3 linked regions of the Homo sapiens genome follow. The protein of the gene in region 3 interacts with the protein of the main gene of each other region in a pairwise test. Each region holds a gene or a part of one and is shown on either strand. Other genes may lie near its edges.

The links.
Region 1: the proteins of SLC30A8 (region 3) and CLDN6 interact in binary tests that used the Homo sapiens proteins (3 or more experiments, as listed by UniProt).
Region 2: the proteins of SLC30A8 (region 3) and CGRRF1 interact in binary tests that used the Homo sapiens proteins (3 or more experiments, as listed by UniProt).

Annotation. Positions count from the first base shown.
Region 1 is NC_000016.10:3,016,068-3,019,820, reverse strand, and holds the start of CLDN6 (claudin-6), read left to right. Parts: upstream 1-1,637; 5' UTR 1,638-1,672; intron 1,673-3,753.
Region 2 is NC_000014.9:54,526,799-54,530,451, forward strand, and holds part of CGRRF1 (cell growth regulator with RING finger domain protein 1), read left to right. Parts: intron 1-3,250; coding exon 3,251-3,428; intron 3,429-3,653. UniProt on the Homo sapiens protein: Able to inhibit growth in several cell lines.
Region 3 is NC_000008.11:117,169,495-117,173,147, forward strand, and holds part of SLC30A8 (proton-coupled zinc antiporter SLC30A8), read left to right. Parts: intron 1-1,539; coding exon 1,540-1,674; intron 1,675-3,041; coding exon 3,042-3,187; 3' UTR 3,188-3,653. UniProt on the Homo sapiens protein: Proton-coupled zinc ion antiporter mediating the entry of zinc into the lumen of pancreatic beta cell secretory granules, thereby regulating insulin secretion.

The sequences.
Region 1 (3,753 bases), on a different chromosome or scaffold from region 3:
CTCCAGCCTGGGCGACAGAGTGAGAGTCCGTCTCAAATAAATAAATAAATAAATAAATAAATAAATAAACAAACAAACAAACAATAAAAAGAAATCAGACACACGACCAATCCATGCAGAGATCACTGCAGCTTCCTTCCCCCCACCTCCCCTTGAGATTGCGTCTCACTCTTGCTCAGCCTGGAGTGCAGTGGTACGATCACGGCTCTCTGGGCTCAGGTGAGCCTCCCACCTCAGCCTCCCAAGTAGCTGGGACCACAGGCCCTGCCCCACCACGTCCGGCTAATTTTTGTATTTTTTGTAGAGACCAGGGTCTTACTATGTTGCCCAGGTTAGCCTGGCCACTACAGCTTTGTTAAGGGCCCGGGGGGTATAACAATTAAACCTGAGGTCAGGAGCTCGAGACCAGCCTGGCCAACTTGGTGAACCCCCGTCTTTACTAAAAATAAAAAAAAGAAAGAAGTTAGCCGGGCGTGGTAGTGGGCGCCTGTAATCTCAGCTACTCGGGAGACTGAGGCAGGAGAATTTCTGGAACCTGGGAGACGGAGGTTGCAGTCAGTCGAGATAGCGCCATTGCACTCCAGACTGGGCGACAGAGAGGGCCTCCATCTCAAAAAACAAAACAGGCCGGGCGCGGTGGCTCACGCCTGTAATCCCAGCACATTGGGAGGCCGAGGCGGGCAGATCACGAGGTCAGGAAATCGAGGCCATCCTGGCTAACACGGTGAAACCCCGTCTCTACTAAAAATACAAAAAAATTAGTCGGGGGTGGTGGCGGGCACCTGTAGTAGTCCCAGCTACTCTGGAGGCTGAGGCAGGTGAATGGCGTGAACCCGGAAGGCAGAGCTTGCAGTGAGCCAAGATCGCGCCACCACACTCCAGCCTTGGCGAGAGAGCGAGACTCCATCTCAAAAACAAACAACAACAACAACAAAAAACCAGCAACATAAAAATAATATTATCTGGCCGGGCGCGGTGGCTTAAGCCGGTAATCCCAGCGCAGTGCGAGGCCAAGGCGGGCGGATCGCTTGAGTCCGGGAGTTCGAGACGCCTGGGCAATATAACAAGACCCTGTCTATACAAAACAAAACATAAATTAGCTGGGCACGGTGGCGTGTGCTGCCTGTAGTCCCAGCTACTCAGGAGGCTGAGGCGGGAGGATCGCTTGAGCCCAGAAGGTCGAGACTGCAGTGAGCCGTGATCGCACCACTGCACTCCAGCCTGGGTGACACAGTGAAAATATTTCTCTAAAATAATACCAATAGTATGCCCTTTAATTTGTACCTTAGGACGTAGTTACATAATAAAATGCAGACTTGTTATCTCCATTTTGCAGAGTAGGAAACGAAGGCTCGGGAAGGTTAGGTGAGTTCCCCATGTCACCGCGCTGCTTAAGTGGTGAAGCGGAGTCTCAAGCTCTGTTCTACCCTAAGCCTGGCGCCCTCACCCTGGGTGAGTCTGGACGTCTGCCAGCCCGAGGCGGGCCCAGCGACCCCAGCCTCCAGCGCCCCCCTCTGACAAGCCTGGGATTCGCACGCCCGCTGCCGTCAGGGACAGGGTCTCTGCCCCTCCTCCGGGGCGGTGGTCCAGTGACGTCACCGCTTCTTTAAGACCCCCGCCTCCGCCCCTGTCCCGACACTCGGCCTAGGAATTTCCCTTATCTCCTTCGCAGGTGAGTCCGGGGCTAGTGTGCGTGTTGGAGAGACGCCTCTTGGGGCCGGGTGCAGGGTGGTGGCGGCGTGGGTAGGGGTGCGTGCGAACTCGGGCTGCGGCCACCTGGATGGGCGAGTCCCTGAGGGGGTCGGCCGGTCCGCGCCCAAGCCTCCGAGGTGATAGGGTCCTTCGGGGCTCCCAAGGGTTAAACGCCCCTCCCCCCTCCCCAGGGACAAAGACTCCGAAACCCCTGGCGCCCCTCCCCCACCTGCCTTGCCTCTCGGGGCGGGGCGCCCCTCCCCCCTCCCCCTCACCTGGGGGAGCGGACCTTGCGGCCACTGCAGCTATAGAACCCCTCCAGGGCGCGCGGCTCCCAGGCTGGGGTGGTCGGGTGGGCCGGGGCGCCCTCGGACAGAGTCTTTTTCATGCAGTGCATGAAAAAGAAAGGGGCAGGGGCACACTCAGAGGGGAGAGGCCTGGGCGCCTATACCAGCGCGGCCCCGACCCTAACTCGGCCAGAGGCCTAAGGGCCGGACCTGAGCGCTGGGGCACCGTGCCCCAGCCAGTCTCCCCAAGGTGGTCTGCTCCGCCCAGGCCTGGGGCCCCCGGCTAATGAGTAGAGCCTGCCCTCCGACCGCTGCCGGCCGGGAAAAGTTTAGGTCCAAGCCGTACAATGAAAGTACTCTGGGCAGTGGGAGGCCACAGCCCGGCCCTAGTCAGAAGTGATTCCCTCCACGACCTCCAACACTGAGGGGACACAGGTGCAGGCCAGGTGGCGGTGGGAGAACTGGTGTTGAGGGGAGTCTAGCACGGCATTTTCGTCTAGAATTCATAGGAAAAGGCCCTCAGCCTTGAGGCTATGCTCTCCGGCGCCTAGGGCAGGTCAGAAGGGTGGGGCCAGGGAGTTATCCACTGGCTTTGGGGGAGGAACTGCTTTTAGATGGGGGATTAATGATGCTTTTCTTCATCTCTCCTGGTCCTGGTGTCTGCCAGCCTGGGGTGTGGAACCAAGTTGTGAGGGACATTGGGTGGTGGGAGGAAGCTTAGGATCTCCAATCTTAGTGTTGAAATTAACAAGTTTTGGTTGGGCACGGTGGCTCACACCTGTAATCCCAGCACTTTGGGAGGCTTGAGGCGGGCAGATCACCTGAGGTCAGGAGTTCGAGACCCGCCTGGCCAACTTGATGAAACCCTGTTTCTACTAAAAATACAAAAATTAAGACCAGGTGTGGTGGCTCATGCCTGTAATCCCAGCACTCTGGGAGGCTGAGGCGGGAGGATCACGAAGTCAGGAGATCGAGACCATCCTGGCTAACACAGTGAAACCCCGTCTCTACTAAAAATACAAAAAAATTAGCCGGGCGTGGTGGTGAGCGCCTGTAGTCCCAGCTACTCGGGAGGCTGAGGCAGGAGAATGGCGTGAACCGGGGAGGCAGAACTTGCAGTGAGCCGAGATCCCGCCACTGCACTCCAGGCTGGGCGACAGAGCGAGACTCCGTCTTAAAAAAAAAAAAAAAAAATTAGCCGGGCGTGGTGGTGTGCACCTGTAATCCCAGCTACTTGGGAGGCTGAGGCAGGAGAATCGCTTGAACCTGGGAGGCAGAGGTTGCAGTGAGTGGAGATGGCACCACTGCACTCTAGCCTGGGCCACAGAGCGAGACTCCTCGTCTCAAACAAACAAACAAAACAAATGGACAAGTTTTGAGCCTTAAACTCAGGGCTAGAATTGAACCATTCTACACGGAAACTGCTTGGAAATCGCACCGTCCTGTCATCCTGCTTTTTGCCGCCTTGCAGCCTGATCACTGGCTCTGGCCTTGGACTGTCATTGTATAGGTTTCATCCTGTTATCTTTCATTTGCATTCAGGATAGCCAGGGCAGGGCTGCTTGCACAGTCACTGTCATCAGCCAGTGCCTGTCACATAACTAGAAAGAATAATAAATGCTAAAGCATTAAGTGTCCATTTTGCCCACGAGAAGTGAGGCTCAGGGAGCATGTCTTGACTGAGTTCCAGGATGTGATGACCACTTTCCAGGGTGCATGCCCCTAGAGTCCTGTCCACATGTGGCCTGAGGTCTGGGCCTGCCAGGCCTCACCT
Region 2 (3,653 bases), on a different chromosome or scaffold from region 3:
GAACCTCCATTCTCTACAACCTAAAACTTTCATCTCCCAATACTCTGGCTTTATTATCCTCATGAATGGTCTCCTTGTTTTATTACTGCTTCTCTCACAGGGATCCTTCCTCAAGAAGGTTTGTGGCTTTTCCGCCCCATCATTTCTCCCTTTTTAGTGGCTTAGCATATTTTCTACAGTCCTTATTTTTTTCACTTTTTTGCAAGGCTGTCTCTTACACTCCGCTTTATTTGCTTGTTATAGATAGTCTGGGTAAGGACAGTTTGAGAGATACCACACCCATGTGCTTCACTTATTTTGATTCTGAATTTTCTTACAGCTACGTCCCAATTCTGTTAATGCTATTGATCTAAAGTGATGTCATGTGTGTACTGAGTTTTAGAAGGCAAAAAAATACATAAAAATTGAAACTCTTTGCAAAAAAAAAAGTGGAAAAGGTAAAGGGAGAATAGTTTTGATGGGGGTACTGACACTGTCTTCAGATAGTGGAAATCATTACATTCTCCCCTCAGTTTATGTAATGGACAAGTTTGTAAAAGATTATAGAGATATACCTAATGCTAAATGACGAGTTAATGGGTGCAGGACACCAACATGGCACATGTATACATATGTAGCAAACCTGCACATTGTGCACATGTACCCTAAAACTTAAAGTATAATAATAATAACATTAAAAAAAGAGATTATGGAGAGTATAATTTTATAGATTCTGTAGTTTTTTTAAATTAATTTTAGAGACATTTTAAGATCTGATTAATCTCCAGTTGTCAAAGGTCTCTGACACTCTTCCCATTTTAGTTAAGTATACAAAGTCTATAAACGAGTCTCTTAAGTAGCTCTGAATCTTTGGGGCTCTGGCTTTTTTTTTCTTTTTACAAAGCAAATAAACAGGGTAGTTTTATATGTTCTGTAAGCTGTAAGTTGAGTTTTAAAAGGCTTATCCTTCCATTGTTCTTTTTTTTTTTTTCTTTTTTTGAAACAGGGTCTCACTCTGTCATCCAGGTGGAAATGTAGTGGTGTGATCATGGCTGACTGCAGCCGTGATCCTCCTACCTCAGCCTTCCAAGAAGTTAGGACCACGGGTGCGTGCCACCATGCCCAGCTAATTTTTGTGTGTTTTGTAGAGACATGGTTTTGCCACGTTGGCCCAGGCTGGTCTCAAACTCCTGGCTCAAGTGATCTGCACATCTTGGCCTCCCAAAGTGCTGGAATTACAGGCATGAAACACCACACCCAGCCTGTTCTTCTTTAATGTAAACAAACACATATATGGGTATCCATTCTTGTGAGATAAACAGTAGCATATATATTTAATTTTCTCTACCTTGCTTTTTTTTCATTTACTAATATATTCTGAAGATCATTTCATAATAGTGTGTGCAGATACTCTGATATACCTCAATTCTTTTTTTTTTTTTTTTTTTTTTAAGAGACAGAGTCTCACTGTGTCAGCCAGGTTGTAGTGCAGTGGCACGATCTCGGCTCACTGTAACCTCCGCCTTCCTATTCACTTTTAATAGCTTCTTAGTACTTTATTGTAGAGTACTATATTTATTCATTTAATCCGCATTGATGAACATTTGGGTTTATTCCAGCATTTTGCTATGATAACTAGTGCTATAATGAGTAGCCTTATACATATATCTTTTCACATTTTTGCTAGTAATACAATAATAAATAATCATTTTGTGTTTCTTGTTTTTTCTTTTTCAATGTTTTAAAATATGCATTTTCTATTTTTTCCTTTCGTATCTACCTCCAGCTTTTTTCTTCTGCCTCATGTTATGTGGTTCTACAGTGACAAAGGGAAAAATATGTGTGATTTTGTATGTGTGTGTATATGTGTGTATATGTATTTGTGTATGTATAAATAAAATGTTTTCCTTCAGCTATTTAATATCAAATGGAATTTTTCATTCTTGAGTTAATACCTGATGATTGGAATCATAAAAATTTGAAATCAAAGCCTGCTCCAATTAACCTATGCAAAGTTCCTACCAATTAAAATTTTTCCTTAAGTATGATTAGAAATGGCCATGTATCAATGCTACTCAGACTCTCAGACTGTGTGTACATACTACTAAATACTGAGAGTAAAATTGGAAAAATCAGTTTTTGGTATCCTGTGGAGCATCTGCTTGTATTTGTGTATCTTCTTCTAACATATACTCTTGATCACATTTTAAAAAATAGGTAATATATCAATCAGAATTCTTATTAGCAAGCAACAGAAACAACTTCAATAAAAGGATATTGGGTAGCTTACAGAATTGCTGGCAGGTTTGGAGAGCCAAAATCAGATGCCAAGGCTGTTGAGCCAGGAACAATGACCAAAACCAGGCCCTTTTTATCTAGTCAGTGTATCAGTGCCAAGGAGTACTACACGTTACAGTTTGCGCTGCTACAGTTTGCACCCCCAGCAGTATGAAAGGCTGGATGTTGCTACCCTTGAATGTGATATTGCTACAAATACCACTAGGAGGGGGAAATCACATAGGTGACACAAAGTAAGTCCTATACAAGTGTTAAATAAAACTGTATAATTTCACATCTACTTACAATTTGTATATCCATTTAATCAGGTCTACTCAAATTGTTATATCTTCTTAAGTTGAAAGTGAACAACTGAATTAAGATACCACTATTAAACTCTTTATGTTTTGGAATCCCCACTCTTTTCCTCAGGATATTTTGCATATTACATGGGACATTAAGTCTGTGACAAGCCTGTATGTTAATGTTGTCAATGTATACATTAATGTTAGTAAAGCTCAGTTTCTTTTTAATATTTTTCTTACAACAGCGATCATGTTGTGGAGCCTATAGGTTGTACATATCCCCTTTAGAGGACAGCTGTATTCTGCTGCACTGTTTCTTGTCGTTAGGATCATATACACTATGAGAGTGGTAGGTTATCAATAGTGAACTGTATTTTAGTTTTAAAAATCTAGATGGGAAATGTCTTAGAGTCGCCAAAAAAGAAAATTAACAGTTTCTAAGCTTTAATAGATAAATAGTAAGAAATAGTTTTTTGATAGCTCTCAAAAAATGTGTAGACATTGAGCTTTTATATCTCTTGTTACAGAGGCCAGTTCCTTCGTTTATAGGAGGCATACCCTTTAACAAGTTCTTTTAACTGCCATCATCCTGGCCAGCATCCAAAAGGAAGCTTTTGTTACTCACCCTGTATGATTGTATTAGAAGTTACATTAAATCACTTTCATTCTTTCTCCTTTGTTTTTTACAGCTGGCATAACCTTGACAACAGATTGCCTTGAAGATAGCCTCCTTACATGCTACTGGGGGTGCAGTGTTCAAAAATTATATGAAGCTCTGCAGAAGCATGTTTATTGCTTCAGAATAAGCACTCCCCAAGCATTAGAAGATGCTCTGTATAGTGAATATCTCTATCAGGAACAGTATTTGTATCCTTTCGTCTGATATACCCATTAGCACTGAAAATTAGACTTCTTATGGATAAAGTGTTGCTAACTTATTGATCATTCTTGGTATACTAGAAGCATGTTTATTGCTTCAGAATAAGCACTCCTCAAGCATTAGAAGATGCTCTGTGGAGTGAATATCTCTATCAGGAACAGTATTTGTATCCTTTCATCTGATATACCCATTAGCACTGAAAATTAGACTTC
Region 3 (3,653 bases):
TAATCCTCTGGGAAGCTTTTAAACAATGCTTATGCTCAGGCCTCCCATACCCAGTGTTATTAGGCTGTTCTCACATTGCTATAAAGAAATACCTGAGACTGGATAATTTATAAAGAAAATAAGGTTAATTGGCTCATGGTTCTGCAGGCTGTACAGGAAGCATGGTGGCATTTGCTTCTGGGGAGGCCTCAAGAAGCTTCCAATAGCGGCAAAAGGCAAAGGGGGAGAAGGCACGTCACATGATGGGAATGGAGCAAGGGCAAGGGAGGTGCTACACACTTTTAAATGACCAAATCTTGCAAGAACTCACTCATCATCGCAAAGACAGCACCAAGCCATGAGGGATCTGGCACCATGACCCAAACACCTCCCACCAGGCCCCATTTCCAGCATTAGGGATTACAATTCAACATGAGACACTGGCAAGGATAAATATGCAAACTATATCACCCAGAGATTCTGATTTAATTGTCTGGGGTTGGGGCTGGCTTTGGTATTTTTAAAAACATGTAGTCAGACTAGAGAACCACTGCAAAGCAGAGCTGCTCAGTGGCTCATGAATGTTGGTGCAGTGGTTCTCAATCTTGGCTGCCTGATAGAATCACCAAATGAGCATTGATGTTGGGCCTTATCCACAGAGATTCTGATTTAATTGGTCTTGGGTGTAACTTAGTCATCAGGATTTCTAAAATCTCCTCTGGTAATACTAATGTGCATCCAAGGTTGAAAACCACTCTGAAAGACTCTAGATTTTGGAGCTTCATCCATAGAAATTTCCTTTTAGGTCTGGAATGGAGTCGTGGTACATTTATTTTTAATAAACACCCCAGGTGTTTGTGTTGTTTGTACATAACTGAAGTAGAGGCTAAAAAAGGGCTGTACTTAGACATCTCTTCTACAGCATCCTCCAATGTAGCTAAAATAATAGAAAACTTACAAACCGAATAAGATGGTATTATACAATGTTAGGATCCTCTATTAGCACAGTTCACTAAATGACCTGTTGAGTAACTAATCTTTGTACAACATTGCTGTTCATAATGATTAGATATTTTCTGAATTGCTCCTCAAAGATCTCTGTGATCTATGTGTTGTTCTTAACACCCTTATTTTACTACAAATGTGCTGAGGGTCAGAGAAGTTCTGGGATTTGGGTAAATTCACAATAGTTGTCGTCAGGATGCTAACCCATGATTATTTGATACCAAATTTCATGTTATTTCATTTTACTTTCCAGAGTGTATATAAAGATAGTTGGAAAAGGCACAGTTAGTTTAATAGTATACCATAAAAACTAAGGATAATTACCATTGTTGGTTATTGCATAGTAAATTCTGCAAGTATTCTGAGTGGGAAATTTTGATTGATGGTAAACCTTGAAGTAGTCAGGTAAATCTTATTTGTAAACATTTGAAGTAAGAAACCAGCAAAGGGATGAACACATTGAAATTTTGGTGAGGACTTTGCAGCTTGTTTAGGTAATTCAATGAGCTGTATCTAGTTGAATAACTACAGCCTCCATCTCTTCCCTTTTGTCAGGTGTGCCAAAGAGCCTGAATTACAGTGGTGTGAAAGAGCTTATTTTAGCAGTCGACGGGGTGCTGTCTGTGCACAGCCTGCACATCTGGTCTCTAACAATGAATCAAGTAATTCTCTCAGCTCATGTTGCTACAGGTCAGTGAGTTTTGTAAACACCCTGGAAAAAATTCAGTCCTTGTCCTGTAAAGTCAGTAATTTCCCTTCTTTTTGTAGAGCTGCCCTTATTGTCTGTTGCTTGTCAAAACATTATAAAGTGTTTTCTATTACCAAGGGCCTTTGAAACCAGCCCACTTATTGATGTTGTCATAGCAACAATGATACCCACGACATTCTTGGGGCTGACTGCAGAGGGCTGAGGACAGACAGAACAAAGGACTAAAATGCACCCGCCACTTCAAGGCCTTGGACTCTGAATATTCAACTTCATCTGTTTGGCTTGGTGCCCTATCAGTCAAATAATAGGAATGAATTAAAAACTTAATCTTAATTGAGTATCTCCTATGTATAAGATGTTTTTCCTGGCACTGAAAATAGGAAGATGAAAGAGACACCAGCCCCACTCTTAAATTTCTAACAAGCTAATGGATGTGCTAATAGGAATTATGGTGGGGTCCCACACTGTATGATTAGAAATTCTGTAGCCATGTGAGAAAATTCTTATAATACTAGGTTTATACTAAAATTACTTTTTCAAGAAGTTAATTTTGTCTCTGATATGTCCTAGAGCTGGGAGGATAGGCAGTGGGAGGGCATTTACTGCCTCAAGAGAAAGCTCAGGCCAAGGATAACACATTAGGCTGCTAAAAAATGACTCAAGGAGTTACTTAGGGGCAGGGGACAGGAACACTAGTGACAGTCATTTGAAAACTGTGCTTTCTCAGACATCGTCATCTTCTCGAAGGGGCTTAGGTCTGACTTGAGGGAATTTACAGCATTCACTATGCCAATATTTCACTGCAAATGGAAGAATCTAGTAAACACTCAGGTTGCTATGGAGGAGACTTTACAGCCTGCTGATAGCATTTGGGACAGGAAAAAAATGGCAGTGAGGGTTGCTGCTCTAAGAAAGGTCTGTGGGGAGCTCTAAACGCTTCCTGGTTCCTGTCACTATCCTTGATATAAATTCTGATTACATACAAAGCCTGCAACCCAGAGATCCCTGGGAGCTGGTGAGCAGGGCTGTATAAGAAATAATAGTTCTGTCTTGGCTTTTTCCAGGGCTTGTCTCCCCTTCCATAGTAAGCTCCTAGGAATGCCAGACTCCAGAGATAACAGTGGACAGAAAGAGTTCCCATAGCGACAGGGCACTTTGCTGCACTAGAGTTTCCCCTGCCTTGTCTGTGTGAATGTAGCTGATTATCAGAGCAAACGTGGCTTCCTCTGAGTGCCCTGCCTCTGCCCCACCCCAGCAGGTCAAAGACAAAGTACTTGAAGTTGGAGTCAGAGCAGTCGCCCATGCGTGTGCAATCAGTGCTAATCTCCCTGTGCTTCTTTATCAACAGCAGCCAGCCGGGACAGCCAAGTGGTTCGGAGAGAAATTGCTAAAGCCCTTAGCAAAAGCTTTACGATGCACTCACTCACCATTCAGATGGAATCTCCAGTTGACCAGGACCCCGACTGCCTTTTCTGTGAAGACCCCTGTGACTAGCTCAGTCACACCGTCAGTTTCCCAAATTTGACAGGCCACCTTCAAACATGCTGCTATGCAGTTTCTGCATCATAGAAAATAAGGAACCAAAGGAAGAAATTCATGTCATGGTGCAATGCACATTTTATCTATTTATTTAGTTCCATTCACCATGAAGGAAGAGGCACTGAGATCCATCAATCAATTGGATTATATACTGATCAGTAGCTGTGTTCAATTGCAGGAATGTGTATATAGATTATTCCTGAGTGGAGCCGAAGTAACAGCTGTTTGTAACTATCGGCAATACCAAATTCATCTCCCTTCCAATAATGCATCTTGAGAACACATAGGTAAATTTGAACTCAGGAAAGTCTTACTAGAAATCAGTGGAAGGGACAAATAGTCACAAAATTTTACCAAAACATTAGAAACAAAAAATAAGGAGAGCCAAGTCAGGAATAAAAGTGACTCTGTATGCTAACGC